Linked DNA regions of Homo sapiens: regions 2 and 3 are each linked to region 1. Evidence: fine-mapped expression QTL. A gene starts in region 1. Each other region holds a variant in brackets. All regions are shown on one strand. Distances are from middle to middle. Region 1 holds the start of HELZ (helicase with zinc finger). Region 2 overlaps HELZ (helicase with zinc finger). Region 3 overlaps HELZ (helicase with zinc finger).

What was found. PIP is the estimated chance that this variant, and not a neighbour inherited with it, causes the effect. A credible set is the group of variants that fine-mapping cannot tell apart.
Region 2: its variant is the best candidate, but not a certain one, in a credible set for the expression of HELZ in whole blood (INTERVAL, PIP 0.87).
Region 3: its variant is the best candidate, but not a certain one, in a credible set for the expression of HELZ in whole blood (TOPMed, PIP 0.64).

What each region holds. Positions count from the first base shown.
Region 1 is chr17:67,239,980-67,250,346 of GRCh38, forward strand. HELZ (helicase with zinc finger) reads right to left here and starts at 5,217. Exons shown (of 33, transcript NM_014877.4): 1 at 5,169-5,217; 2 at 3,805-3,860. HELZ-AS1 (HELZ antisense RNA 1) reads left to right here and starts at 4,797. Exons shown (of 4, transcript NR_136398.1): 1 at 4,797-5,229. RefSeq lists enhancers at 4,441-5,428, 5,429-6,415 and silencers at 4,745-4,794, 4,895-5,384, 5,935-6,024, 6,035-6,234.
Region 2 is chr17:67,196,446-67,206,812 of GRCh38, forward strand. HELZ (helicase with zinc finger) reads right to left here. Exons shown (of 33, transcript NM_014877.4): 6 at 6,874-6,998; 7 at 4,684-4,740. Among named protein-coding and RNA genes, the nearest start is that of HELZ-AS1, 43 kb to the right of the region's middle. The variant A/G (reference allele first, on the strand shown) is at 6,158.
Region 3 is chr17:67,091,031-67,101,397 of GRCh38, forward strand. All of the region lies in intron 31 of HELZ (helicase with zinc finger), which reads right to left. Among named protein-coding and RNA genes, the nearest start is that of CACNG1, 52 kb to the left of the region's middle. The variant C/T (reference allele first, on the strand shown) is at 4,499.

The DNA.
Region 1 (10,367 bases):
AGCTTATCCTAAAATTCAACAGATGGTAATTCATTACTACCATTAACCCCCACCAGCCCTAACATTACATGAATTCAATTCATGCATATTTCTTTTAAAAGATCAACAAATCAAAACTTTACCAACCTGACTAAAGAACTAACTGTTTTCATGTTTCACAATTCAAATTACAGTTATCTTAAGCTGATGGTAGTTTATCATTATTACTTATCACAGAAAATAAGAACAGAATAGTCCCTGCACAACATCCAAACTCTGGTTCAATGACCATGCCTTTTCTGACTTCTCACTCTACTTCCACACTGCCAGAATATCTCAGGAATAGAGAGGTCTTCCAAAAGCTAAATGACACCCAGCTGTTTGCCAGATTCAGCTCAAGGGAGCAGGACTAGAGACAGAAGAAGAACAGAGGCTTTTCTTTTTTTTAACCTTTTTTACTTTACATAAGTACTGCTCAAATTTGTTTACCATAAGCATACAGGAGTTTTGCATAAAAGTAAATAATTTTTTAAAACTGTATTAGTTAAACACGTTGCCTACTGACAGGAAGCTCGCATTATAGGACATTTTCATCACAACAAAGATAATTTCTGCAGAAGGAAGCAAAAAGGCAAATTCAGATGTGACAAGAACACCTAAAATATAGCACAGAAATGACAAAAATCACAAACATTCACACTTCAGAATAGTTCAGTCAACAAAGATGCCATGCATTCTTTGAAGAACCTGACGATGAATCAAGTTCTTTTTTGTTCAAAGACAAGATATATGTATACACTCTGCTTTACCAAACAACTTCCTGCTCTTACTTGGAGAAACTGACCCAGTACAATTCACAAAAGTAAACAAGTTGGTATGACTGTTGGTATTAGTTGAAAAACTTTCCATTTCTTTTGAATAATTAAAAGTTGACCAAAATAGTTATTACATGTATATATAAATAAAATTCTTCCTGTTACATCTACAGTGGTCTTTTAAAAAGAGGAATATTCACTTCTAACAGATTCAAGATTACTGAAAACTATTATCCCAGCCACCCTCAAAGCAATAAACCATCATGTTATATGCTGCTTCTAGCCAATGCTACAGAAGTAACCCTGACTGCACTCATCAACTGAAATGAATGGTAAGATAGTATGGCATACTCTCCACTTGTATCACTTTTCTTCTAGAAAACATTTCAAAACATTACTTAGAAATCCAATTACATCTGCATGTATATTCACCTAAGTTTATGAAAATTAAACCTAAAAATTTGCTTATAATTTTTTAAGTAGTTCCTCCCCATCTCTTGGATAACTGTTGTTGATACACCTGGCCCGAAATCTTCTATACATTTGAAACAACAGGCAAAGGTCCTTATTTCTTGTATGGGGCCTGTATTTGGATCTTAGGGTCTCTGACAGACAATTATAGACTAATCTACATTCAATATTAATGCCAAGCCTACTGCTTAAATAGAGAACACATGCATCTGTAAGATCTGGGCTACTTACTTGTAGGTCCCTCTGCACTATTCTTAGCCTTTCATGAATATGCTGTAGATTTTTTAATTACACGAGGCCCTTTGCAAGTAAAAATGACTTTTCCTGTTGTTTTGGCATCACTCCTCTTCCAGTGAAAACTGGACAGTCTATAAATATATACCAACTTTAAGACAATGCATTTTAATATCTATGGCATTAGAAAATAAAACTTCTTGTTAACAAATGCAATAATCAAGTTTACCAGCTAATAGAAAGGTACTTACTCCCAAAAACTACAGCCTTACCTAAAAATAGTGTCCTAGCTTCCCAGCCAAAAGGACAGACTAAAAAAGCTCTGTCTTTATTCAGCTCAGAGACACAGACTTCTACCTCACCACAACCTTCAATACTATGGCATTTCCCATTTTAGAATACTTTGTGTAACAAGTTGTTCAGTGGCCAACCACTAACTTCGCTTTGAAATGAATACTAACACTTCACAGAGTCTACATGTGTGAGAACTGTGGAAAATGTCTTGACACAATTCAGGTCAAACAACACTAGCCACACAAGATTACCTACTTCTAAGTATTCCATTTTAGACTACAAACAAACATCTCCACAGTCAAAAAGCAGACCACTGGCTCCTTTCCACAAAATTATCTGTAGGCTTCAAGAAAAAAGATAAGGCCAGGCATGGTGGCTCACGCTTGTAATCCCAGCACTTTGGGAGGCCAAGGCGGGCAGATCACCTGAGGTCAGGAGCTCGAGACCAGCCTGACCAACATGGTGAAACCCTCTCTCTACTAAAAATACAAAATTAGCCGGGTGTGGTGGCGTAAGCCTGTAATCCCTACTCGGGAAGCTGAGGCAGGAGAATTGCTTGAACCTGGAAGGTAGAGGTTGCAGTGAGCTGAGATCGCGTCATTGCACTCCAGCCTGGGCAACAAGAGTGAAACTCTGTCTCAAAAAAAAAAAAAAAGAAAAAAAATCTATCTATCTATATACATAGATACACACATATATACACATATATACATATATACACACATATCTATACACACATATATGTATATATACACACATATATGTATATATACACACATATATGTATATATACACACATATATGTATATATACACACATATATAAAGTTCAAATTGGGAGGTCTAAGGCAGGAATATGCCTCCATCTGCAAAATAAAAATAAATTTAAAAATCCATATTTGCTCTGCCAAAAATAAAAATTATATGAAATAAACATAAGCACTGCTGAGTTTCAAACACAAGAAAATGCAGTATGTGCACTTACAAAAGAATCTTGGTTTATGTCCACCTTCCTTTCCTAAGTTTTTATTTTTTTAAGGCAAAATGTCAATTACATGCCTCAATCTAGAAAAAAAAAAAAGGATAGCTTATTCTTCTTAAACAGATGTTGTGATAGACACGAAAAATTTGTGAGAGGATTTCAAAATCCAGAGGCCCAGATGTGTGGAGAAACAACAAAAAAAAAACTACAGTAACCAATCGACCACAATTACTTATTATTTTTCTAAAAAAAAACTTAGTAAAACATTTTAAGTTGAGAAAACTCGTGAAAAATGTAAAAGTAGCAAACTTCTCTTCCTCTCTATAGCACAGAAAACTATTCACTAACACTGTATCAATAATATCCTTTAAATCCAAAGCATTACAAATTAGATTAAATAAAGCACTTTGAATAAATTCACACACCGTGTGTGATCAGGACATAATGACAAACTAGTCTATTTCCTAATAAGCTAAACAGATCTCAACACTATCATCTTTATTTCAAAATAATTATTAAAGAGAAAAGTACTACTCCATTTTTCAGAAAATAAAAGCAGGAGTGATTGACCTGCCTAATTCTTTCTAACGGAAAGGGTATACTTTACGAGTCCCACAAACCAGGTACACACAAAATCCATATACATAATCACCGGGACTAAACGTACAGTAGGTGATAGACACCAAAACACAAATAAAATTAAGACATCCAAGTAAAGTTACGCAAGAAAATTTGAATAGGCAAACTATAATTATCCCTGGTGAAGATACTGATCAAGAATAGCTGCAAGTAACATTTGGCTCTTAGTTAAGTACCACTATGTTTGAGTATGTTGGAGCAACTGAAAAGATTGGTACATTCAACATATTTTTCCTTTCTAAATCTAGCCCTGCCCATAGACCCACTGACTGAGTGATACATTTGGAAAACAAAGATGGCCCCATCAAATTACTCAGTTTCAGCCTTACTCTTACCAGTTGATTAAAATAAAGAAGGAAAAAAAGGAAATCATTTTTAACTGCAGTCTCACCTTACACATCTCACCAGCACTGTAGTTCATTAGTGATCCATTACTTCATCCAAATCCTGAGGCAAATAGAAAAGATGTTTCCATACAACACCAGTAACAGACATTATCAGTAGCAAACATTTTATCAGCCTGAAGTGAAAGGGCATCTACATTTAAAATGGAAAAAGTTACAAAAATGGTACAGTGTGCAGCTTTGCAAATGAGTCTGGTTTTTGACCTTAAAACATTTCCTTTCAGTAAGGTAAAAGAATAGATTATACAATGCTCTTAAAACTCAAAAACATAATAAAATCATCTTTTTCAACACAGACTGACCTTACTTTCAAAAACATAAAGAAATGAAGGAGAGGAAATTTCATTAATATGAGTTTAAGAGAGAGCAAAATTAAGAACAAACTAGGCAAGACAGACAACTCCTCCCTCCTTCCCCCGCTCCAGGAATCCACTGTCTCTGAAGTTACACTTTTTATTATATTAATGATTTGCCTGAGAAGTGTTAAGTTGTGAGGGAGAAGGAATGACAATTTTTGAACTGCAAACAAAACCTGAGGATCCCGATCCAAGAACAATCAGAGGACCCTGGCTTCCAGCCCTGTCTGAAGATTTCTCAGCAAAGGCGAGGGTGCAGAAGGCTCCAATAATTTAGGGGAGAGGAATCGAAGTTCCCTAGGTAAGACTGCAGTCTGTGAGCCCTTGAAAAGGGTACTGGAGTACTCTCAAGGAATCTCCAGGAAAAGAGAGCCTATCTTTATTTTTGTTGATGTGCTTGTGGGCCAAAGAGCATTTCCGAGGAGGGGGCGGGGAAAGGGGGGAAGAAAGTGAATCTCGGGCCGAGAGCCCTCCGCGGGGGAGGGAGGGGGCGCACGCCTGACCCACTTTTCCCCACGCCCCCGCTCCAGCCCCCACCCCACCCGGTGGAAGTCCGAGGCCTGAGGGGGGGCATCGAGCGGGGCGTGGGAGGCCCGCACGCTCCCCACCCCCAGCCGCGACCCGGAGGAGGGGAACGTGCCGGGAGGCTCGAGTCCCCCTCCCAGAGTGCTCTGGGCCGGAGAAACCTCCCGCAGGCTCCCGGGCCAGGCGTGCAAGGCCCCCTCTCCTGCCAGGGCCCAGGACGCTGCGGGCCCCAGCGGAGGGGAAGGGGACTAAGTAGGGGAAGAAGCTGTAAACAGCCCCAGCGTCCGGGCCTCGCCTCGAAGAGCCGCGCTTCCCAGGCCCAGCCGCGGGCCGCCCAGGCCCCCAGCCTGCCCCGGGGCCGCCGCGCCCGGGGTCCGGGACACCGGAGGGGAGTCGGGTCCCCTCCCCGGAGAGCTCCGGGAGCTCGCGGAGCGGCCCCAGGAGCAGAGAAGGGGGAAGTCAGGACTTACCTGTCATTACTTTCTACGCCATCTTGGATCCACTTGTCAACGTCCCCACAAAGCATTATGGGTAAGAAAGAGCCTTTAAAGTGACTCCCCCCGGCCCCCGACTCCCGCCTCCCGCCGCCGGCGCCGCCCCCTCCGGCCGCGCCTCCCGCCCGGAAAGTTGCCCCGGGTGGACTGCCGACCCCGGCGCCCGCAGCTGGCCCCTTCCCCTCCCCCGGGCTGACGGCATTGAAAATTCACCCGCATTTTTAAAACGTGGCTTTGGGGTTTTCTCCCTTTCTCCTGCCCCGGCCTCCCTGCCCCCACGCCCGGTCCTCTCGCCTCGCCGCGTTCCTGCCCGGGCAGACGCCCCGCGTCTGCATTGAATCAACCCGAGGTTTCCTTGCCGCCCGCGGCGCGGCGCGGAGCTGCTCGCGGATTTATTTGTGCGCGTGGATGTGAGCGTTTCTGCTCCTGCGGCCGCGCTTCCAGGAAGCCCGCGAGCGGCCGGGGTCGCCTTCAGAGGCCGCGCAGACCAGCTCCGCACCCGCCGCCCGGAGAGGTGCCTCTGCCCTGGGAAACCGCCCCGGGGCCGTTGGGCTCCGGGAACTGGGAGGACGCCGTGTCCCCGAGTCCACCAGCGTCGAAGCACGATTTAAAAAAAAAAATTGAGCCAAATGCAACTTTTTACCCCTTGTTTACTCTGTGTCCCGCGGTCTCCTCCTCCGGGCGGGTAACGTGATCCGCGACCCTCTAGGTGGGGACCCCTCCCCTAGGAATGTGGCTCCAGGCTCCGCGGAGCCACCCTGGGAGCGTCCGGGCTGCGGACTGTGACTCCGGGGCAGGTAATCCGGGGCGCCGGCTGCGGGCTCCGGGCGGGGCGGGGCGCGGAGGCAGCCAGGGCTCGGGGGAGGGTCCCGGGCGGAAAGCAGGGTGCGCCAGTCCGGGTCCACCTGGCGGGTCGGGGGAGAACCGCGGGCGCCGCTGCAGCTCGGGAGGCTGGAGGTGGGGACGCCCGGCGTCTCCGGGCTGCGACCCGCTGCGCTGGAAAGTGTGGGGCGCCTTGGCGCGGGCTGAGGTCTCTGACCCGGGCGAGTACCCCCAGCCCGCCGGCCACACTGCTGCCGGGCATCCTCTCCCCGCGACACCACGCCCGCTTTCGGCTGCGCGGGGCGAGCAGCGTACTGACCCCGGCGTCCAGCCGCCCAGGTCCCCCCAGCAACGGAGGCCCCTTGGTCAGCCTCCTCCCGCGCTCTCCGCAGAGCCTCTGGTCCCTGCTTTGCTGTCTTTGGAGGCCTGCTCCAGTTGCTTTTTTTTTTTTCCAAGCAAGTTTTTACAACAAGGAGATACCCAAAAGAAAATTCTCCAAGACAGGAATGCTTGCGAATTGTATTCGGTACAAAATGCTGTTGAACGGCTCTACCTTTAGAAGACCGCAGAAGCACTGGCATTAAAACCCTCTTTCGGTGCACGGGGAGGGCCTGGGGCCTTGGATCTACCCGAGGATTTTACGCTCCTCCAGACCCTATCAACAGCCTCACTAGGAACGTGAACGGTGGCAGACAGGAGCCCTGCCCCTGGGGAGCCAAAAACTCCACCAGGCAATTGTCCCGGTCTGATGAGAAGGTGTAGACACATTAAGGGATTGGCCCCGGGTCACTCGTGAAGGAGGGAACGAGGTAGTGAGTCATTCCCAGCCAAGAACGCAGCGTGCTGGGGAGCAACCTCCCCTGAGTCACCTGCTTCTCACCTCGGAATAAGTGGAGAAACTGGAGCCTGGAGCCAGGTTCTTAGACGGCCCAGCAAGGTAGCCACCAAGGGCATGGGCTAGGCTGGGGGGAGGCAGCGCCCCTCCTGCTGGAAAAGGGAATGCTTGGCCCGTCTGAAGAAGGCTCCAATGTCTCTTTCCAGGGTACCCCAGGTGCTTCTTTTCCAATTCCTCTTTTGCACTTATTTAGCCACTGGTATGCACTGGCTTAATGGTGGTTTTGTTTGCATGGCACCTTTAGGTATGTGGTCTGAGTTTATGCAAAAGTAATGACAAAAGCCGCAGTGACTTTTGCACCCACCTAATATAAGTAAACAGGAAATAAGTTGAGGGCAAGGACTGTGTCTCCCAAACACGTTTCTTTGATAAGCAGCCTTTCTTTGCCTTGTATAGGCATTGACCCAAATAAGTGTTCAGTTTGTGTGACTGCCCAACCCATTCACTGCCTCCAGTGTGTGCATCCAAGCCCAACCTTGTCAAATACACCGCCTGTTGCCTGAGCTGGGACGGCCTGCCGACTCTTCTCCCTGCCCCTCCTGGATACCTACAATGCATCCTCCACCTGACCAACCCTGTGATATTTTATGAATGTAAATCAGATCGAGACTTCTCTGCTGAAACCTTGGAATAAAACCCAGATTCCCAACCCTGGCCTACAAGCTCCTGTGTGAGGTGGTCCCACCTTCCCTCACCAGCAGTGGTCCAGGCTGGCCTTCTCTCTTTCCCTGCAGCGCCCCAAGCTTCCTTCCAGTGAGAACCCTATTCCCCCAGATCTTCTGATTATCTTTTCTTTGACAGAGTCTTGTTCTGTCGACCAGGCTAGAGTGCAGTAGCGCGATCTCAATTCACTGCAACCTCCGCCTTCTAGGTTCAAGCTGTTCTCTGCCTCAACCTCCTGAGTAGCTGGGATTACAGGCGTCCGCCACCGCGCCCGGCTCATTTTTGTATTTTTAGTAGAGACAGGGTTTCACCATCTTGGCCAGGGTGATCTTGAACTACTGACCTCGTGATCCATGCGCCTTGGCCTCCCAAAGTGCTGGGATTACAGGCGTGAGCCACCACGCCCGACCCATCATCTTTTCATCATATTTAGGTCCCCTCAAAGAGGACTTTTGTGATCCCCCTACCCAGACCAAGTCACTCTGAACACTTGACCTGTGTTAGAAGTTCTCTTGTTTAGGTCGGACGCTGTGGCTCATGCCTGTAATCCCAGCACTTTGGGAGGCCAAGGTGGGTGGATCACAAGGTCAGGAGTTCAAGACCAGCCTGGCCAAGATGGTGAAACCCTGTCTCTACTAAAGGTACAAAAATTACAGCGCGCCTGTAATCCCAGCTACTCGGGAGGCTGAGGCAGGAGAATTGCTTGAACCTGGGGGGCCAAGGTTGCAGTGAGCCAAGATCGTGCCACTGCCCTCCAGCCTGGGTGACAGAGTGAGAATTCCATCTCAAAAAAAAAGTTCTCTTGTTTGCCTGTTGTTAGTTGTTTCTTATCTGCCCCGCCCCCATTTGATCATATGCTCCCTCTGGGCACAGGCTCTGTCTGGCTTATTTGCCTCAGTGACTAGACCAGGGCCTGGCACATACATAGACGCTCACCAAGTATTAGTCGAGTACATGACCAAACTTCTCTCAGGGATGGGCGTGTTGATGAAAAGGAGTGCTAAAGTGTGAAGTGAGATGCTGAGGGCCCTGCCTCGCATCTCTTCAGACCACTGACCACACACAGCTAGAGGCAGGCAGAAAGGAACAGTGTTGAGGGAAAACAGGTCCCTTGGCCACCACTGATTTAGCTCAATTCTGATTCTGATCTCATGAACACACACAGCCCTAACTAACTGATCCCCCCGACATCACATCCCTCTTCCTTCCCACATTTTTTCTTTCTCCTCTGCTCCCACTGGCCGTGGCTTCTTTTCTTTTCTTTTTTTTTTTTTTTTTTGAAACAGTGTCTTTCTCTGTCACCCAGGCCGGAGTGCAGTGGCGCGATCTTGGCTCACTGCAACCTCCACCTCCTGGGTTCAAGCGATTCTCCTGCCTCAGCCTCCCGAATGCTGGCACCACAGGCACACACCACCACGCCCAGGTAATTTTTGTATTTTTAGTAGAGACAGGGTTTCACCATGTTAACTAGGCTGGTCTCGAACTCCTAGCCTGAAGTGACCCACCCGCCTCGGCTTCTCAAAGTGCTGGGATTACAGGTGTGAGCCACTGTGCCCGGCCGCAGTGCCTTCATTTTCTGCTTGGAGAGTCCCAAGTCTCAGTCCTTGGGTTTCTCTTCTACAACTACACTCCCTGGTCATTTGCCTTAGTACAAAAATTAGCTGGGCGTGGTGGTGGGCGCCTGTAATCCCAGCTACTCCAGAGGCCAGGGCAGGAGAAACGCTAGAACCTGGGAGGCAGAGGTTGCAGTGAGTTGAGATCGTGCCACTGCACTCTAGCCTGGGTGACAAGAGTGAGACTTCATCTCAAAAAAAAAAAGAGAAATAATTATAATGGACTGCCCACGGTGGCTCACGCCTGTAATCTCAGCACTTTGAGAGGCCGAGGCCAGGAGTTCGATCACTTGAGACCAGGAGTTCGGGACCATCCTGGCCAACATGGCAAACCCTATCTCTACAAAAAATACAAAATTTAGCTGTGCATGGTGGCTCATGCCTGTCATCTGATCCCAGCTACTCGGGAGGCTGAGGCAGGAGAATCAAGAATCGCTTGAACCTGAGGGGCGGAGGTTGCAGTGAGCTGAGATAGCGCCACTGCACTCCAGTCTGGGTGACAGAGTGAGACTGTCTCAAAAAAAAAAAAATTATAATGCCTTGAGGAATGTAAAGTACATCTAGAATTGAAATATTTGATAACAGTGAGTATAAATCTGAGAAGGGCGGTGGTTGCAGTTAGTGGAGTTAAAATGGTCCAAAGTAGGCCGGGCGCGGTGGCTCATGCCTGTAATCCCAGCACTTTGGGAGGCTGAGGAGGACGGATCACAAGGTCAGGAGATCAAGACCATCCTGGCTAACACAGTGAAACCCCATCTCTACTAAAAATACAAAATATCAGCTGGGTATGGTGGCGGGCGCCTATACTCGCAGCTACTTGGGAGGCTAAGGCAGGAGAATGGCGTTAACCTGGGAGGCGGAGCTTGCAGTGAGCAGAGATCCCGTCACTGCACTCCAGCCTAGGTGACAGACTGAGACTCCGTCTCAAAAAAGCAAAAAACAAACAAAAAAAAGGTCCAAAGTATTTACATTATCCAGCAATACGACTAAAGTACCAGTTAAGACTAGACATTGACAAAGGCAAAGATGCATGTTGTAACATCTAAGTTAATCACTAGACCTGTAAAAGAATGAATAATTTCCAAGCTAACATAGAGGGAAGACAATAATAAATTCAAAAGAAGGCAAATACTGATTAAAAAGACCACAAAAGGCCAGGCAGGGTGGCTCACGCCTGTAATC
Region 2 (10,367 bases), 44 kb before region 1:
GTCAGCAGTCTGTAACTGCCTTTCTATATTCTTGCACCTCTCAAAGTATCTGGCACATAATAATGGGTGCTCAGTAAATGTTGGATGAGTGGGTGGGTGGATAAACAGATAGATGGTTGGTTAGTTGGATGGATGGATGGATGGATGGATGGATGGATGGGTGCATGGGTGGGTGGATGGGAACATGGGTGGGTGGATGGGAACATGGGTAGGTGGTTGGGTGGGTGGGTGGATGGATAAATGGATGATTCACCTAAGCACTTTAAATGCAATGGGCCCAAAGCAAAATTCATCAACTTTATCCTAAAGTTGATCCTTCTTCAGTGCTCCTTATCACAAGTTAATGGATTCTTCTTACCCAAAGAGAGCCAAGCTGAAATTTTCAAAGCCATCTTGAACTCCTCCCTCTTCTATCCTGCTCTGAATATTCTCCAAATCTTGTCCAAACAGGTCTAGAATGTCTCTCATCTCTCTTACATTCTCTCCTCCCACTGCCACTGTCCTAGGTAAAGCCCTCATTACCGCTTGTCTCATTTATCCCTGAACCAACTGACAGCTTGCCAATCTTGCCTTATATCAAGTCACCTGTGGGTCTTTACTAAGTGATATGGTTTGGCTGTGTTCCCACCCAAATCTCATCTTGAATTGTAGCTCCCATAATTCCCTTGTGTTGTGGGAGGGACCCAGTGGGAGATAACTGAATCATGGGGGCAATTTCCCCCATATCGTTCTTGTGGTAGTGAGTAAGTCTGATAACATCTAATGGTTTTATAAGGGGAAACCCCTTTCACTTGACTCTCATTCTTCTCTTGTCTGCCGCCATGTGAGATGTACCTTTCACCTTCTGCTGATTGTGAGCCCTCCCCAGCCACATGGAACTGTGAGTCCATTAAACCTCTCTTTTGTAAATTGCCCAGTCTCAAGTATGTCTTTATTAGCAGCGTGAAAACAGACTAATATACTTAGCTATCCCTATCCTTTAAACTCAGTTCTCACACTTCTGCCCCCCTGATTTCCCTGCAGAGTTTTCCCCTTTCCCTGCCTGTATTTTGTGATAGCACTTACTGACTGCAGGCTGCCCTGTGTGCACATTAGCTGTGTGCATCTCTGACTGACCTGCCAGATTGCTTTTCATGGACATCTCAGCTTTCCAGAGCCTTGAACAGCACAGGTGCTCAGTAAATGTTAAACTGAATCAGAAGGAGTAAACAGTATCCCAAGATGAAATCTGGAATATCTTGTACCATAGAAAGAACGTCAGAATGCTAACGGGTCATAACTGAAACAATACTATCACTATAATTTATATGTGGTTGATTAAATTGTACTTTTTAGGTTGGGCTTGAACTAAACTCTGTAATACTGTTTCCACAGGAAAATGCCTTCTGATTATCAGTAAAGCACTTACTAAGGAGTTTTTAAAAAGCAAGCCATTCTTTTTGTAAAACGAAGGGCTGAATATAAGAATACACAGATTAACAAATCAGGAGTAATTATTCATATTATTAGCATTCTACGCTGCAAAAAAAATTAAAAAAAAGCCATTAAAAGATCTCTTTAAATTCTTCAAGCAAGGTCTATGTGCCACTGTCACAAACTAGCCCTTCAAATGATTCTATTTACATAACATATATAAATAGATAGGCTAAAAATTAACTGCAAGTAGGAAAATTTTAAAGTATCTCCTTTTTAAAACCTATCAAAATAAATTTATCAAATGTGCAAGAAAAATAATGGGAATAAAAATGTTTGATAAACATTATTAAAATGTTTTGGTCATAAAATAAAGCCTAAAACACTTATAAATGTTGGAGAGAACACCACACAGTGCATTTCAGCAGTCAGCACCTGTAAGAATCAGTGACGACCCGCACGGGCCTGTGCTGACACTGAGCTCTAGGTCTCCTGGGGATCTGGGGAGCAGCACATGCTCAGCAGAGAACTGGTAAAGTAAGGCACTCAGCCTGGCTAAGTATTTAGCAGTCCTGGCTTTTAGGTTCCAAAGTGTTGTGTTTGTTTTTTAAACACTCTTTTTATGCACTTATACTCCAAAACAAAAAGGCAACAGTTTATCATCATTAGTCTTTACCGACACCTTCAGGAAAAATGGCCAAAGATTACACTGCTAGAACTATAAATTCAGAATCAAATCTATTAATCAGATATTTTAAATGTTACTAAAGAATATTTACTAAAGAATACTTGTTTTTGTTTTCATAAATCAGTCTTGAGTTCCAGGTCTTTATTCTCATCCATTAGCATTTACAAGTTAAATACCAGCTTAGCCCAATTTTTAAATAACAAATTGTTGCCATTTTTAAATGTGTCATGTGCAATAATAAATAAGGGTAGCACTGTTTGTTAGCTTTTCCTAAACGGTTATCTTTTAATAATATCAATTCACTAACCAAAAAGACTACTACTCTAGTTAGATAGAAAAAAATTACAAAAACTTAAGTCACTTCTTCCAAAAGTATAGTCACAAAATAAGAGTCAAGTGATATATGTGGCCTTACATGCAACAGGATTATAAACATTAAAAATAAAATAAATTGCATGTGATTATCAGATGTAAAGTTGGTAATTCAATTAAGGCAATAAAAGAAGAACAAAGCCAAAAATCTTAACAAAATGAAAGGTCATTTTATGCTGTCATTTTAAAAGTCTAAAACATCTACAACTGCCTTCTGTTACTTCTTAGAAATTAAAACGGCTACATATACACTATTAGGTTGGTGCAAAAGTAATTGCGATTTTGCCATTACTTTTTTTTTTTTTTTTTTTTGAGACAGAGTCTCACTCTGTCGCCCAGGCTGGAATACAGTGGTGCAATCTCAGCTCACTGCAACTTCCGCCTCCTGGGTTCAAGCCATTCTCCTGTCTCAGCCTCCTGAGTAGCTGGGATTACAGGCTCCTGCCACCATGCCTGACTAATTTTTGTATTTTTAGTAGACACAGGGTTTCAACATATTGGTCAGGCTGGTCTCAAACTCCCGACCTCAGGTGATCTGCCCGCCTTGGCCTCCCAAAGTGCTGGGATTATAGGCGTGAAGCACCGCACCGGGACTGTTTTGCCATTACTTTCAAAGGCAAAAACCCCAATTACTTTTGTACCAACCTAATACCTATATATACACATGGCTTTGAAGTTAGTGAGAGCTTACTGATTCTCGGTTGATTCACAATCAGGCAACATAAGACAAAGAAAATGAAATTTAGAAGAAAAAGCCTAATAGTAGCAAAACAGTTATTTTTTCCAGCTTGTATAATCCATGGTGACCACCTTCTTTGCTGTTTTTTGGTATGAACTGGGATACATTACTACATTTGGAATGGAAAGGAACCCACAGGAGTTCAAAGTTGACACCAGGGTCTCTGCACATCCCCTCTGTCTGTCTGAAGCGCCCTCCATCTCACTCTCCGTGAGACAAGCACCTTCTCAACTCTCAGCTCTTGGTTTAACTGTCTCAGTCCTTGGCCACCAAATCCAGTGATTTTTCCAGCAGAAGAGTTCATTCTTTTCCCTCATATCACCTACCTCTCTGTGAATTACACTTACAGTTGTTCAATTTATTTACTTGTTGTCTATCTCCTTCCTAAAACTTTAACCTCCAAGAGGACAAGAACCATGTTCAGTGCTGTATCCCCAGCAACAAGCATAGTACCTAGCACATAGGCAATTTTTGAATAAATAAGCCAATTAATCACTGTACATGGGCTTTTATGACAAAAGCTGACAAAATGGCTATTTTTTAAATAGGACATCTAAAAATAAAAATACTTTTATATGCCTATATGAAGAAGAAAAATTTGAGACTTACAAACCTCAGGGCCTTTTACATGCCACTGTTGTCCCTGACCTTCCATGTGTCCTCCAAGTCCTTCACTGGAGTACTTTTTTGTTCACTATTTATCCTCATACACATTATTTCCATCTCCTAAACACATTCCTTAAAGACAGTCCTTAAATCACAGACTTCCATCAGGTGCTTTAAAAAAGACAAAAAGAAGGCCTGGTGTGGTAGCTCATGCCTGTAATCCCAGCACTTTGGGAGGCAGAGGCAGACGGATCACTTGAGCCCAGGAGACCAGCCTGGGCAACATGGCAAAACTCCATCTCTACCAAAAATTAAAAATAAAAAAATTAGCCAGACGGTGGAGTGTGCCTGTAGTTCCAGCTACTCAGGAGGCTGAGGTGGGAGGATCACCTGAGCCAAGGGAGGTCGAGGTTGCAGTGAGCTGTGATCACACCACTGCACTCCAACCTGGGTAACAGAGCGAGACCCTGTCTCAAATAAACAAATAATAAATAAATAAGGCTTGAGGATATCTCATTTTTAATGATAGCATTTCATTTTCTAGTAGCCAGAAGTAGTTAAAAACTAAAATTTCCCAATCATCTTCCCATTTGTTGTCCAGAGACAGCTAATAAGATACCAGTTCTGTCCACTAGGGACAGAAGATAAGCCCTGGCACACAGAGGAGACATGTGGAGAAGCAGCATTCCCACGATGGGACTGTGGGTTATGGGGGTTACGAGGGAAGGCTGGCAGTCCCACTGCCCCACCTTCACAGCCTCGCCTTCTGGCTGATGCCACAATGGTTTTCCAAATTTTAATACATAATGCTTACTAGACAGATTGAGTCAAACTCTTCCAAACGGATCCACTGAAATGGCCTTACCTCTGTTTCTGAGAGAAGTGTTTTTAGTCTTGTCAAATCCTTTGTTACCATCCCATTCTGAAAGGGTGAATAAAAAAGAGAAGAACCAATTAGTATATTAATTCTTTACTATGGCAACTTAGCTCAATTCCTCTGTTGTTTCTGAGTTTATTTGTAAAAAACAATGTTATCCTCATCCCTCATCACTACTACCATTAACGATGACAATAAAGCAACACATCTATGAGGAAAATTTAAAAGGTTAACAGGAAAAACTATACAGAATGCCTTTTCTGGTAAGTAAAACCACTGTATTCACCTTACATTAATTAAAATTAACTCAAGAAAATATTAACAACAGGTACCACCACAGAACAAGACAGCATAAATGAAAAGGAAAACAACCTATTGCTGTTTTTAACCCTTTTCCTAAGATTAATAAGTTTGTATGTACAAAATGGTGAACCCAGCCATGATTCAGGAAGATTCATATAAGCTGATCACACCACTTTAAAAATGGCTCTTTAATAAAAGGAAAATATCACTCTTCTGAAATCTAAATTTCATTTGAGATTTAAAAGCAAATTACTCTTTACTCGTTTTAAATTTAAAAACAACAGGTAAAACTGTAATATACTTAACTTATACAGAAAAGCCCTTTAATGATAATCTTAATAACAAAGAAGAGATATATTCCTTTATTATCTACTTAGAACTAAATAGCTATATAATTTTTCTATGCTAATACATTTTAGCTTTTAAGTTCATTTATGAATCTGGTGAAATCAAAAGACACTGCTAAACTTAAACATAATTAAACAATTCACTGCACAATAATTCCTTAGAAAATAACTATCCCGAGATGGGCCAATACATTACACTCAACAATATACCAAGTACTTCCCTAACTTCTTTTTTTTTAACCAAATATAATTATTTAATATTTGGAGTAAAAGCACAAATCTGCCCCATAATTTTATCATCTATATCAATTCAGAAGAATAGGAAAGATACAGGGAATTCACACAGCAGAGCAAAGTATACATATACTTTCTTGCTTTCACTGTGTTTCATTATGATTCTTGAAAATTATCAACAAATTTCTTAAGTTACGAACTGGTTTAAAAAAAAAAAGGTTATAGCTCTTTTCTTCCACTTTCTATAGATTATCAAATCCAAAGTTTCAAAAAGTAGCCTTTCAATTATCTCAACCAAAAAAAGCCAAAAAATTAAATATACTTCTGAGCACAGTGGCACATGCCTATTGCCCTAGCTACTGAGGAGGTTGAAACAGGATCACTTGAGCCCAAGAGTTCAAAGCTGTAGCGCACTATGATAACCCCCTGTGAATAGCCACTGCACTCCAGCCTCAGCAATTCAGCAAGACTCCGTAACTTAAAAAAATCAAATGCTATATTTACAAAATTGATTGTAAAGTCTGAATAGAGTTAGCTAGTTCCATCAGAGTGGTTATGGATATTACTTACACACATAC[A/G]AACAGAAACAGAAGCACTTATTAGTTTAGATAGATTTAAACATTTTATGAAATAAATTGTTGAATTTAAGAACCCTATGAGATCATATGTCCACATCAGCATTTTAAAACTCAGGCTCTGTTAAATCATATCTTCAAAGAAAATCACTTAGTTAACCTAAATTATTTTAAAGTATCTACAATTCTTATATATAATCACAAACTACAAGAATTAATAATTAAATATCATTTTGGTCTCGAAAAAAGAGCAGGGGCTCACACCTATAATCCCAGCACTTTGGGAGGCCAAGGAGGGAGGATTTTTTGAGCCCAGGAGTTCAAGACCAGCCTGGGCAACATAATGAGACCTCGTCTCTACAAAAAGTCAAAAATTAGCAGGGATGGTAGTGCGCATCTGTAGTCCCAGCTACTCAGGAGGCTGAGGCAGGAGGATCGCTTGAGCCCAGGAGGTTGAAGCTGCAGTGTGCAGTGATCACACCACTTTACTCAGCCTAGACAACAGACTGACACCTTGTCTCAAAAAAAAGAAAAAAACAAAAAAAGAAAAGAAAGAAAAGAAAAATGGGTACTATATCTCAGGATACTCATGAATTTTGCTTTCTAATAGAGGAAGAACTAAAAGAAAAAAAGATACACTTTTTTTTCCCCACAATATACCTAAGGAATCAAATAAAAATTTGTTTTCAGGCATACAAAATTAGAGCTTATCAACATACCAGGGACTCTCCTGTGAGTGACTTGGCAAGAATGGTGGATACAGGTTGGAGCTTCCCTTTCAGCTGCATGCAGCAAAGCACTGCCCGAAAGGCATCTTCTCCCTTGGCCAGTCCTTCTCCCAGCACTGCCATGAAAGAACAGCCATCATTAACCATATGACATTTAATGCACATTTTTCTTGATTATAGTATTAACACACTATCACAAGCGTGGCTTTTTATATGCTAAAAGAGTAACTTCAAATACTCTAGAGGGAAGCAGTGGTGTTTCTGTTCTGTCCAAAACAGGCATATAAGAACAAGAAAAAACATGCGGCAATAAACATACCGAACTTACAACCAGTTGAGATCAAAATCACAGGAAGAATCAATCCTTAAGCTCTCGAGGGAAAAATACTGTTCAACCTACGAATTCTGGGTAAATGAGGGCTTTTAAATTGCAGACTTAGCTGAATAAAGTTCTCATGTTTTTTACAGTGACATAAGACTGGGTGCCATTAAAATGAGTAAGAACAGAAACTACAAATCTCACCTAGATATTCCTAAGCAATTAAGAATTAGTCTTTATCAAATCCAACAAGATTTACTAAGAATCCAATTGCCCAGTGGCCACAGAAAATGCTACCCAAATTGTTTGCAAGGGTTTGCAGATTTAATCTAATACAATCATGAGGATCATGTTTCTAACAAAACAGAATATACTCATTTTTATGCCATGTCATTTGAGATGATTTCTCACAGCAACTGCTAATGGTTCAATTAGTAGAGCAATCTATATCCTCTGCATTGCTAAGTCCAAGGTTCTATTATTAGTTTGTACATACTTTAGCTTCCTTTGCAATAATTTGCTAAAATATTTTAGAAATTATTTTTAAAATTATTTCCAAGGAAATGTTTCTTTTTAGTATAACATACCATATATATAAAGTCCACTGGATCTGTTCATATTTTTGTTATGAATATATCTTCTCCTATTATTACACAAACATTATAAAACTAATAAAATTCTACATAAGAGTTCATCATAATCTCACTACTCAACGAAGTTTTCACTTACTCATTTTCTCCTCCAATTCTGATCAATGTTCACAACATTTTTACAATGATTGTAACTGATGCCAACATGACAGTTTGTATTCTTTTTTGCCCTCAGCACATTCAGTATTTTCCATGTGATCAGAGTGCTTATATTTATCTTATTATTGGCTATATAATGTTCTACCAAGTAGATACATCAACTTATTTAACCCTTCCCTTATAAGATAATAATTCCAATTATTAACTATTAAAAATAATGCCATAATAAAAATCTTTACATATACCTTTTATTGAATTTACTAAATTGAAAGTTGCAGTCTCTCTGTATTTGACAGGGTTTTATTCAATTATTTTTAGTTTGGACGAATCTATTGTTTCAATCCATCCATATTACAGATCACTCATCTATTCAACAGTCACTAGATAATTCTGTTATCTAGTGAAACTCCAATAAGGAGTTATCAAGTGAAAAACTCCAATAAGGTATCATTAAGAATGTCTTGAGTGTCTTATAAAGTTCCAAGGTAAGTATTCATCTCCCTCAGATCTTACTATTCCTAAAACTCTTCAAATCTGACCTTGGGCAAGTTACTTATCTCTCTGACCCTCAGTGTGGCCATCTGTAAAACAGAAACACGTATAAATTTGCCATTAAAGATTAAATGAAACAATACAAGTAAAATGCTCTCGCCAGGCATGGTGGCTCATGCCTGTAATCCCAGCATTTTGGGAGGCCGAGGCGGGCAGATCACCTGAGGTCAGGAGTTCAAGACAAGCCTGGCCAACATGGTGAAACCCCGTCTCTACTAAAAATACAAAAATTAGCGGGCATGGTGGCAGGCACCTGTAATCCCAGCTACTCGGGAGGCTGAGGCAGGAGAACCGCTTGAACCCAGGAGACAAAGGTTGCAGTGAGCCAAGATCGTACCACTGCACTCCAGCCTGGGGGACAAGAGCGAAACTGTCTCAAAAAAAAAAAAAAATTGCTCTGAAGAAAAATGACACTCCTACTAAGGTATGGATTAGTTACATCGCTAAGCCTATTTCCTCCCCTATCAAACGGAGGTGACAGTAGCTACTTCATAAGGTTGTGGTAAAGATTAATTATGCTAATTAGAAAAGTAACTAGCAGTCTCCTGCATAAGTAAGAATTCCCTACATATTACCTTCCCCTTCTAAAAATTTTACAGCAGTACTGAGCACTGCTGAGGAAATATCTTAGTTCATTTTTAGTAACTGGGATATTAAGAAACTAGTTGTCAAGAGCTGAAAAATGTTTGCAGGAATGAAAAAGTCTAAGAGTATTTCAACTTCATATGATGATGTCATACTTAAAGAGTATTAAATCACATAACATTTTACAAACAGGTTTCATAGATCTTTGGTTTTGTATGAGGTATTTGCTGAATTTCATTTTGCAAGTTTCTTCCACTACATTGCTGTATGAATATCTTAATATTTGTCAAATTTATGTTTCCCTTTTTTCCATCTCTTTTTCAGACAAGAAGCAGTACTGACATACTTTCTTCCTGTTCCCCTTAAATGAAATTCAATTTATGTATGGGAGGATCCCATATAAAAAACTATGGCATAGAAATAGTCAATAACTATAGATAAAAACCTCTCCTGCTACTGTATCGTATAACAAAATTAAATTGCAATGCTGCCAATCTAGTTCCTTATTACCTTGAAAAAGCTTGGGGGAAAAAAAGTATGGCCTACTGTATTATTAAACTTGTCTCGGCTATAAAAACTGAACTTGCCAAAAGACATGACATTAATAATACAATCTTGAACAATTATAAAAAAGTTACAGCTCCTTGCAGATAAATTCTCTTCCCATCAACTATGTGTGAGAGTGTACTGTGCGCACACAACTGTTCTCAAACTGAATTGTTCCTTTCTGTTCACTAGGAGTTACAAAGGAGGACTTCTGTCAGCTCGCTGTGTATCTTTTTTGTGATATTTTCTAACACTTGAAATATGTCTTACTTAGAATGTTTTGGATTAGAAACTGAGTAGACTTAAAGGAGTAATATTCATTCAACTGTTTTAGCAAAATACATCTTTGCTGGGGTTCCATAGCCTCTGGCTATCACAAGGCAAGGATTAACAATTAAAATGCAATTCCCTTTGCTTGTAAAGAATTACCTAATATAAGGAAAGTAATCTTAAAACAAGCTTATAGTAAATGTTGAGTACATATTCTCTACTGTTTTCAGTAATATGACCATATTAGGACTTTTTTTTTTTTTTTTTAAGACGGAGTTTCACTCTTGTTGCCCAGGCTGGAGTGGAATGGCGCGATCTTGGCTCACCACAACCTCTGCCGCCCAGGTTCAGGCAATTCTCCTGCCTCCAGCCTCCCGAGTAGCTGGGATTACAGGCATGCGCCACCATACTCGGCTAATTTTGTATTTTTAGTAGAGACGGGCTTTCTCCATGTTGGTCAGGCT
Region 3 (10,367 bases), 150 kb before region 1:
AAATTTAAATTCTAATATAAGCTATAAATTTCCCTCTGACATGGCTTGAGCTGCATTACACAAATTAGGACAGGCTATATTTCCATTTTCACTCAATGTAAAACATTTCTAATATTTCTAATGAAGAACCTTCCATTGGTCAAAGATAGGGGACAAGGTGTGAAAATGTATAAGGACTACAATAAAGTAAAAATTCAAATACATAATGATATCAAATAATAATATTCAAAGTGAAAAAAGAAGGGGAAAAAAGCCTCAATGGTCATCCTGAGGCCTGCTAAGGCCTCAATTCATTACTCTGAAAATTGACTAATAAAGGGCAAGGATTAAACATTTATCCTTCCCTTTCTACATAGACTATATTTTAGGTAGTAATTAAATATTCAATGAGGAAAAGTTCTCCTTTATAAAAGAAAAATAAATACAAAAGAAATTCAAAGAAGTTTTAAATAATCATTTTGCCATTCTAATGAAACAATAGATCTAAGCAACAACCATCAACAGCTGCTAAAATCTGAAAGGTTGCTAGAAATTTTAACGTCAATAGATCAGAATGACATCATCTGATCACTGAAACATACTGATCAACTTAACATAGCTAAAGTGGGAAAACTGGATATTATGTACATCTTTAAACATATAATTTAAAATGAGACATTACATACTGCCTGGTAATTTTTCACTGAAATATCATAGGTATCTTTCCATGTCATGGACACTCTTATAATATCAGATTTAATAAGCTGCATTTTTTTTCTTCATTTACTTAAAACTAATCTATTTAATTTCCCCAAGATTTGAGGAAGAAATCCTTGATTATAGAACACTTAGGGTCTACTAACTTATTTCAATTTAGCTCCCCCTCAAATTATCATTTTCTGCTTAAAGCAAATACGCTACAGTTTGGTGGATCAGTACAGTTCCCTAGAGAGAAAAAACTAGATGGAGCAAGGAGAGGACTATCACTATAAGACTAAAAATAATCAATTTATTAACAAGCCAGATAACGTGTGATGAATAAACTGTAGTTTACAACAGTAATATCTGTGGGTTCATATCTATGGGTTCATGTGATGTAATCTATTGAAAAGCACTTGATAAATTACAAAATCATTTTTTAAAAGCATGATTCCCAGTTAATGGTGGCAACTGGCCCAAGACTCCACTAAAATAATAATAAATGAATATTATAGATATACAACAATCAAGACCATGAGCCTCGTCATCAATAGAGGACACATTTCCAGAATACATGGAGACTGGATGGAGGAATGGTGTCTGTGGAAGAAGAATGAAATTATAGCTACCCCCCAAGAAGGGAAACGATTCACCTAGCAGAATTCCACAGAGGCTTGCCAACTAATATAAAATGAAAGGAAGATGAAGGGATAAAATTAGGGGGGTTAAATGAAAGTCTATACAGGAAACAGCTGGACTCATACTCCTCCCCGCAACAACAGTGGGACACAGCCAGCCAGGTACCTACAATACAGACAAAAAGATAAGGAGACAGACAAGCAAAAATCCGGGAAAAACGAAGGGCTCCACATGGATTCAAGCACTAAAAAGTCCCCAGTGAAAGGCCTGCCAGGCAATACATCCTGTGATATACACAAAACTCCCAAGTTGCTTTTTAGTGAAAGATAATCAAGCGGCCAGGCGCAGTGGTTCACGCCTGTAATCCCAGCACTTTGGGAGGCCGAGGTGGGTGGATCACCTGAGGTCAGGAGTTTGAGACCGGCTGGCCAACATGGTGAAACCCCATCTCTACTAAAAATATAAGAATTAGCCGGGAGTGGTGGCGGGTGACTGTAATCCCAGCTACTTGAGAGGCTGAGGCAAGAGAACTGCTTGAAACCGGCGGGGGGGGGAAGTTGCAGTGAGCCAAGATTGTGCCACTGCACTCCCACCTGGGTGACAGAGCAAAACTCTGTCTCATAAAAAAAAAGATAATCAAGGATTACCAGACTTTTAAGGAAGGTCTCCAGCATAAAAGATAGTCCCAGATGAACAAGTTGAAAAAAGGGAGGCCCGGAAAGAAACAATAGTGATGTTTTAAAAATATTTTAGAACATTGTTTTAGTTCTTATTAAAAATCAAAAACAAAACAACAACAAACCCTCTAACTGGTGTTCTCAGAAAAGGCACTGCAGAAAACAAGATGTTATGAAAAAGGAAAAAGCTCAGAATAAAGAACTCTTGTGAGTTTAAAACCTGAGGGCTCAAATATTAAATGCAATAGTTCTTGCAGATAAAATCAAGGAAATCTTCCTGAAAGTAAGAAAAAGTACAAAGGTATCAAAGTATGACAGGAAATAAAGATTTGGAGAATCTAGGAGGCCCAACATCTTATCAAAAGAAGTTTCAGAAAGTGAGACATGGAGAAAAATAATGCTAGAAAATTATCAAAAAAGATTAATAATAATAGACAATTTCACACAGTTGAAGGATATGAGTCCTTCTCTAAAGCAATGCTGTCCAAAAACTATTTCCTGTGACGATGGGAATGTTCTGTGTCTGTACTGTTCCATAAGGCAGCGCCTTGCCATGGGAGCTCCTGGTCAGTCAAAATGAGCCTACTAGGACTGAGGAACTCAATTTTAAATCTTATTTCATTCCTAATCATAACCTATCCATCAAGAATTCCTCTAGGTTCTACCTGCAAAGTAGATCCTGAATTTATTTCTTACCATTTCCACTGCTACCCCACAGTCCAAGCCACAATCACCTCTTGCCTAGATAACTATGACATCCTTCACTATTTATATTATTTTTAAAACTCTAAACAAATAAATTGCATTATTTTCATACAATTTCTAAAGTAATTTTAATGTCATTTTAGCCTTATAAAACTCAATCATAATGACAGAAGCAAAAATTTATCTTAGTTCCCAAAACTATAGTAGATTTATTTCTAGGTTTTGTTGTTTCCCTTAAAAGATACAGACCAAACTCCCGCAACATGTAATTTACCCATATAACAAACCTGCACGCATACTCCACTGAACCTAAGATAAAAGCTGGAAACAGCATGTAGTCCCAGCACTTTTGGAGGCCGAGGTGGGCAGAGTGCTTAAGTTCAAGAGTTCAAGACCAGCTGGGTGACACAGGAAAACCCCATCTCCACCAAAAAATACAAAATTTAGCTGGGTGTGGTGGCATGCATCTGTAGTCCCAGCTACTTAGGGGGCTGAGGTGGGATGATCGCTTGAGCCTGGAAGGCAGAGGTTGCAGTGAGCTGAGATCATATACTGCACCTTGCGCCTGGGTGACAGAGGGAGACCTGGTCTTGAAAAAAAAAAAAGAGAGAGAGAGAGAGAGAGATACAGGCATACCTTGGAGATATTGCAGGTTTGGTGAGAGAGAGAGAGAGAGAGATACAGACATACCTTGGAGATATTGCAGGTTTGGTGAGAGAGACAGAGAGATACAGACACACCTTGGAGATATTGCAGGTTTGGTTCCAAACTACTGCAATACAGCTAATACTGCAATAATGTGAGTCACGTAAATTTTTTGGTTTTCCAGTGCATATAAAAATTATATTTATACTATACTATAATCTATTAAGTGTGCAATAGCATTGTATGTTTAAAAAAACACAATGTATAAAGGCAAGCATGGTGTCACATGCCTGTAGGCCCAGCTACTTGGGAGGCTGAAGAGGGAGGATCATTTGAGCCCATGAGTTTGAGGCTTAAGTGAGTTATGATCACACCCATGAATAGCCACTGCATTCCAGCCTGTGCAACATAGTGAGACACTCTTTAAGACATTTTTTAAAATGTATATGGCTTAATTTTAAAATAATGTATTGCTTGTGATTCTCTGGCTAAAAAACTTAATCACAAAAAATACATACTGTATTGCTAAAAAATGCTCACTGACCAGGGTGGTGGTTGCTGAAGGCTGAGGTGGCTGTGGCAATTTCTTAAAATAAGACAATAATAAAGTTTGCCGCATCAGTTGACTCTTCTTTTCACAAAAGATTTCCTTATAGCACACAAAGTTGTTTGATGGTATTTTACTCACAGAACTTCTTTCAAAATGGGAGTCAATCTTCTTAAGCCCTTCCAGTATTTTATCAACTAAATTTATGGAATATTCTAAATCCTTTGAACTCCTTTGTTGTCATTTCAACAATGTTCACAGCATCTTCCCAGGAGTAGATTCCATCACAAAAAAACACTTTCTTTGTTCACCCATAACAAGAAATTTCTCACTGGGCTCAGTGGTTCACGCCTGTAATCCCAAAACTTTGGGAGGCCAAGGTGGGAGGATCACTTGAGGCCAGGAGTTCAAGTCCAGCCTGGGTAACATAGTGAGATACAAACAAACAAACACCAAAAACAAAACAAAACAAAAAAATTAGCCAGGCATGGTGGTATGTGCCTGTAGCCCCAGATACTGAGGAGGCTGAGGTGGGAGGATTGCCAGGGTCCAGGAGGTCAAGGCTGCAGTGAGTCATGATTGCACCACTGCACTCCAACCTGGGTGA[C/T]GAAGCAAGACCCTTCTCTTCAAAACAAAAGGGAAGAAATTCCTCATCTACCCAAGTTCAATCATAAGATTACAGCAAGTTAGTCATATCAGGCTCCACTTCTAATTCTAGTTCTCTTGCTATTTCCACCACATCTGCAAGTTACTTCCTCCACTGACTTCTTGAACCCCTCAAAGGCATCCATGGTGATGGAATCAACTTCTTCCAAACTCCCGTTCATATTGATATTTTGACCTCTTCCCAACAATCACAACAAGAAAGCGTTTTTTAGCAATACAGTATATATTTTTTGTTCTTAAATTTTTTAGCCAGAGAATCATTAATGGCATCTAGAATGGTGAATCCTTTCCAGAAGGTTTTTAATTTACTTTGTCCAGATCCATCAGAGGAATCACTGTCTGTGGCAGCTATAGCCTTACAAAATGTATTTCTTAAATAAGACTTGAAAGTCAGAATGACTCATTGATCCATGGGCTGCAGAATGGATGTGTTAGCAGGCATGAAAACAACATTCATGTCCTTGCACAGCTCCATCAGAGTTCTTGGATGACCAACTGCATTGTCAATGAGCAGTAATATTTTGAAAGGAATCTTTTTAAAAAATCCCACCCCCCCTCCCCCGCCCACCAGCAAAGCAGTAGGTCTCAATAGTGGGTTTAAAACATGGGTTAAACCATGCTGTAAATGGATATGCTGTCATCCAGGCTTTATTGTTCCATTTATAGAGCACAGGCAGCATGGATTCAGCATCATTCTTCAAAGCCTTAGGATTTTTGGAATGGTAAACAAGCACTGGTTTCAACTTAAAGTTCACCAGCTGCATTAGTTCCTAACAAGACAGTCAGCCTGTTCCTCGAAGCTTTGAAGCCAGGTATTGACTTCTTCCTCTCTACCTGAGAAAGTCCTAGACAGCATCTTCTTCCAATAAGAGGCTGTTTTGTCTACACAGAAAATCTGTAGTTTGGTGTAGCCATCTTCATCAATGATCTTAGCTAGATCTTCTGGGTAACTTGCTGCAGCTTCTATATTAGCACTTGCTGTTTCACCTTGCACTTTTATGTTATGGGGATGGCTTCTTTCCTTAAACCTCATGAACCAACCTCTGCTAGCTTCCAACTTTTCTTCTCCAGCTTCTTCATCTATCTCCAGCCTTCACAGAATTGAAGAGAGTGAGGGTCTTGCTCTGGATTACGCTTTGGCTTAAGGGAATGTTGTGGCTGGTTTGATCTTCTAACCAGATCACTCAAACTTTCTCCACATCACTCAAACTTTCTCCACATCAGCCATAAGGCTGTTTCATTACATTCTTATCATCTGTATATTCACTGAAGTAGCACTTTTAATTTCCTTCAAGAACTTTTCCTTTGCATTCCCAGCTTGGCTAACTGTTATAAGAGGCCTAGTTTTTGGCCAGTCTTAGCTTTTGACATGCCATTTTCACTAAGCTTAACCATTTCTAGTTTTTGATTTAAAGTGAGAGGCATGCAACTTGTCCTTTTACTTAAATAGAGGCCATGGTAGCATTGTTAACTGGCCTGATTTCAATACTGTTGTGTCTCAGGGAATAGGGAGACCCAAGGAGACTAAGTGATGGGGGAACAGCAAGTCAATGGAGCAGTCAGAATACACATAACACTGATTGCTCAAAAACAATCACAATAGCAACATCAAAGATTATTGATCACAACAGATAAAGAAATAATGAAAAAGTTTAAAATACTGTGAGAATTGTCAAAATGTGATACAGAGGCACAAAGTGAGCACGTGCTGTCAGAAAAATGGCGCTTATAGACTTGCTCAACATGGGGTTACCATAAACCTTCAATTTGTAAAAACTATAATATCTGTGAAATGCAATAAAGCAAAGTACAATAAAACAAGGCATGCCCATATACTGAAATAAATGTGACTTTGCAACACAGTGCATCAAAATCAATTTGGGTCTAAATTTTAAAAAATGCCATTTGAAGCATCTCAGAGGCAAGGGCACTTATAATTTACAAATAGTATTTTCCTACCAAGCAATATTATTTTCCTATACATCCATATACAAGGTCATAGAAGGGATACCAGAACGAATACAATATTACATCTCAGAGAAAAACGTCAGGTTCACTGCTGTGACATTTGGAGCTACCTTGAATCTATCTGACTCTTGTTTACTGTTCTTGAATATGAAACAGTGAATTAACAATTATAGAGCACAACAGCTCTTACAATGAGCAAATGTTGGGGTGGATAGGAAATAAAATAGTTTGCAGTAAAAGTTTACTCTTTGACCCACAACTATTTGAATTTTCTCTGAAGATTCATAATTATTAAAACTAAATAAATTTTCCAGCTTTTGGAAAAAATGTAATGCTGGAGAATGTGTTTTATTCTTAAAGAATGTGGAGAAATTAAGTACATTTCTGATATTTGAGATCTCTAAATTAATCATTTGAGCAGTCAAACATTTAGCAGCTACAACTGGATACAATTCAAGAAATCAAGAATTCTAAAATGAACTAGCTCCCTTTCTCCCCACCACCCAGAAAAAATAAAAGGCAAATTTTACACAACTGAAGATTGAATTCTTCACAAGAACATAATTTTGCTTTTCCCCCACATCTAGTTCTGTGTAATTGCAATCATTTCTCATTTTCTAAGAATAAACCTTACTCATGGAATAGAGATCTGAAGAGCAGTGTGATGCTTCAGAAACAGCATGGGACTGTCAGGAGTCTCCACTCCCTTGAGTTAATAACTGCTTAAGTTACAAGTCCTTTAATATCTTTGTGCCTCGGTTTCCTTTTAAAAGGGGGGAGTTAAATGATCTTTAAGGCCTGACTAGTTCCAAAGTTACAAGATTTAAAGTCTTTGATAAATCAAAGTCTTTTTCAATAAGAATATATTTTAACTTTTAATTAAAAATGTCCAAACAAAGCCAGGCGTGGTGGCTCACGCCTGTAATCCCAGCCCTTTGGGAAGCCAAGGTGGGCGGATCACCTCAGGTCAGGAGTTTGAGACCAGCCTGGCCAACGTGGTGAAATCCCGTCTCTACTAAAAAAAAAAAAAAAAGAAAAATTAGCTGGGCATGGTGGTGGGTGCCTGTAATCCCAGCTACTTGGGAGGCTGACACAGGAGAATTGCTTGAACCTGGCAGGCGGAGGTTGCAGTGAGCCGAGACTGCACCACTGCACTCCGGCCTGGGTGACAGAGCGAGACTCCATCTCAAAAAGTAAAAATAAAAATGTCCAAACAACATCTATCATCTTTAACAACCATCAACAATTTGATAGACTCGCTAAAATATTCCAAGTGTGATGACAAATCCAAGCCTATTTATGTGATTTAAATCCAGAAAACTATAGGACATGCTAACTGACTGCAATGAAATGGATTCTGGGCAACAAGTTTAAAATGTCCTTTTTTCCTCTGCCAGAGGGTACTTCCTATACAGTAAAGGCCCCCAAACCAAAATTTTAGAAAAACATCTGTAGCCTACAAAAGAAAAATATTTCTGACAGAGAAATCCCTTTACATCTCTATCAACACTGTAGCTTTGTGGGCCCCTAGGCTGTTTAAACATACTTTCCTTCCTTTCTGTTCTCATTTCTTATTTATTCTTGTTTCTATTCTTATCTTTTATTTTCTTTTCTTATTTCTTGACTTTGTTTCCTATTGCTTTCGCCCAGTTCTGTTTCGGGAAGTGAGTATTCCTTCTACATACATCTTCAGCCAATCAGATTGTTCCTTTATTTTCGGATGGCAACCCTACCAATGACTGATGCTCAGGTTTAATTTTAGAGTCCTCAGGTCTTAAATAATTTCATTAATGTTGTTTAAAGGCTCATTTACCCTGCCAGAGAGATTCTTAAAGAGATTCTGTGAAGTTCAGTATCAACTCCATATATGATTGTGTGTTTATAAATATGCTTCATGTTTTACTGTGAGATTATGGTACTACACATATAATCACGATTTTCAAATTCTGCTAATATTTCTTTCCAAATATTAAAATGTAATGCTAACATTTCAAAAGCCATTTAATACAGGAAATCTAAGAAAGAAGGAAAAAACTAAACTACAAAACTCATGTATAAATTTTTACTGTTAAAGATAGTTTTAGTTTGAGTAAAAACTCCTAATTTGCTTACCACTGTCTTATAAGATATACCTCTAATATATGACGTTATCAAGCCATTTCACCTGTGTGTATATAAATAGATAACTGGGGAAAGGTCAGCAACTTAATTAATAAGGGCTCTATTTATAATTATGCCATCAAAGCTAATCACCAAGTAAGAGCTAAATACACTAGTTGAAATTCTAAGTCTCATTAACGATGGTGCCAGAAATTTTAATTAAAATAGAACATCTCATTTAAATGATTAGCTTTGATAATTTAAGCATGAATAGAGGTCTAATTTATTAATTTGCTGATCACTGTTACATGCATTAGATGGTTTATTAGATATCATACATTAATGATCTCTTTGAGAAGCTATGTCAGAGAAGACAGCAATATTTCTACCTCGTTATACAACACAAGTCATAAGCTATCACCATCTATTCCTAAAGTGAGAATAGGCAATAATCAACCAAGATTATAATCTTCAAGATACATCTGTACAATACTTTCCTCTAAAAAAGAGAAATTGGGGGAGTCACGATGATTAGACAACAGTATGTTGAAATTAAAATTATCAACTAATTTAAAACAAGAGTTGTTTGAAAGAAAAAATGAAAATAGATGGCTCAAAGTGTCTCTGTTGAAAAACCAACACACAGAACAAGAAATAGTTCAAAGCAGACACATCACTGAAACATGTATGTCATCTCTAAGATGATGTAAGTAAATGTCGATTTACTGAAAGCTGATCAAAGTAAGTGACTTACTAGCATTCCATTTTTATCAGAAAGCCATTACAATATCACAACACAAAAATGAGCCATTTCACAAGCCAACTCCGAGACTTTTACAAAGATGCCTTCAAAAAGGATTTTCTATTTATTCCTTATGAGCACTTTTAATCAAACTACTCCATAGTGAAGCACATCTTAAATGGCAAAAGCTTTCCTTTGCACCAGTATCAACATTGCTACATAATCGTTTTGAGAATTTGTCCCTGAAGATAAAATGACTGAAAAGTATAATGGAAAAAAAAGGTCCCATTAATAACAAAAACAAAACAAAACACATCACTCTAAGAATATTGGAAATACTCAAGATTTAAATGAAGATGCTACAGATTTTTGAAGAGGAACATTCAAAAAATAAGAGAGAGAGAGAAAGAAAGAAGAGAGAGGCCAGGCATGGTGGCTCACACCTGTAATCCCAGCACTTTGGGAGGCTGAGGCAGGCGGATCACGAGGTCAGGAGATTGAGACCATCCTGGCTAACATGGTGAACCCCCGTCTCTACTAAAAATATTAAAAATATTAAAAAATTAGCTGGGCGCAGTGGTGGGTACCTGTAGTCCCAGCTACTCGGGAGGCTGAGGCAGGAGAATGGCATGAACCCGGGAGGCGGAGCTTGCAGTGAGCCCAGATAGCGCCACTGCACTGCAGCCTGGGTGACAGAGCGAGACTCCGTCTCAGAAAAAAAAAAAAAAAAGGAAAAATAGAAGAAGAGAGAAAAAGGGAGGGAGGAAAGAAGGAAATAAATTAAATGAGAAGTATTTGTAAAGATAAAATTTCCCTCAATTTAAGCTACAAGTTTAATGTATTTCAAATAAAAAGCCAAGAAGGGTGTGTAGAGGTGGGACAGAGGAGGAGGAAAGAGTTCATAAAGTTATTTTAAATTTTTTTTTAGTAGTAAAACCACAGAATGACCCTCCTCCCCCATCCACTCCATGCCCCACATATAGAAACTGGAAGGGAAAAA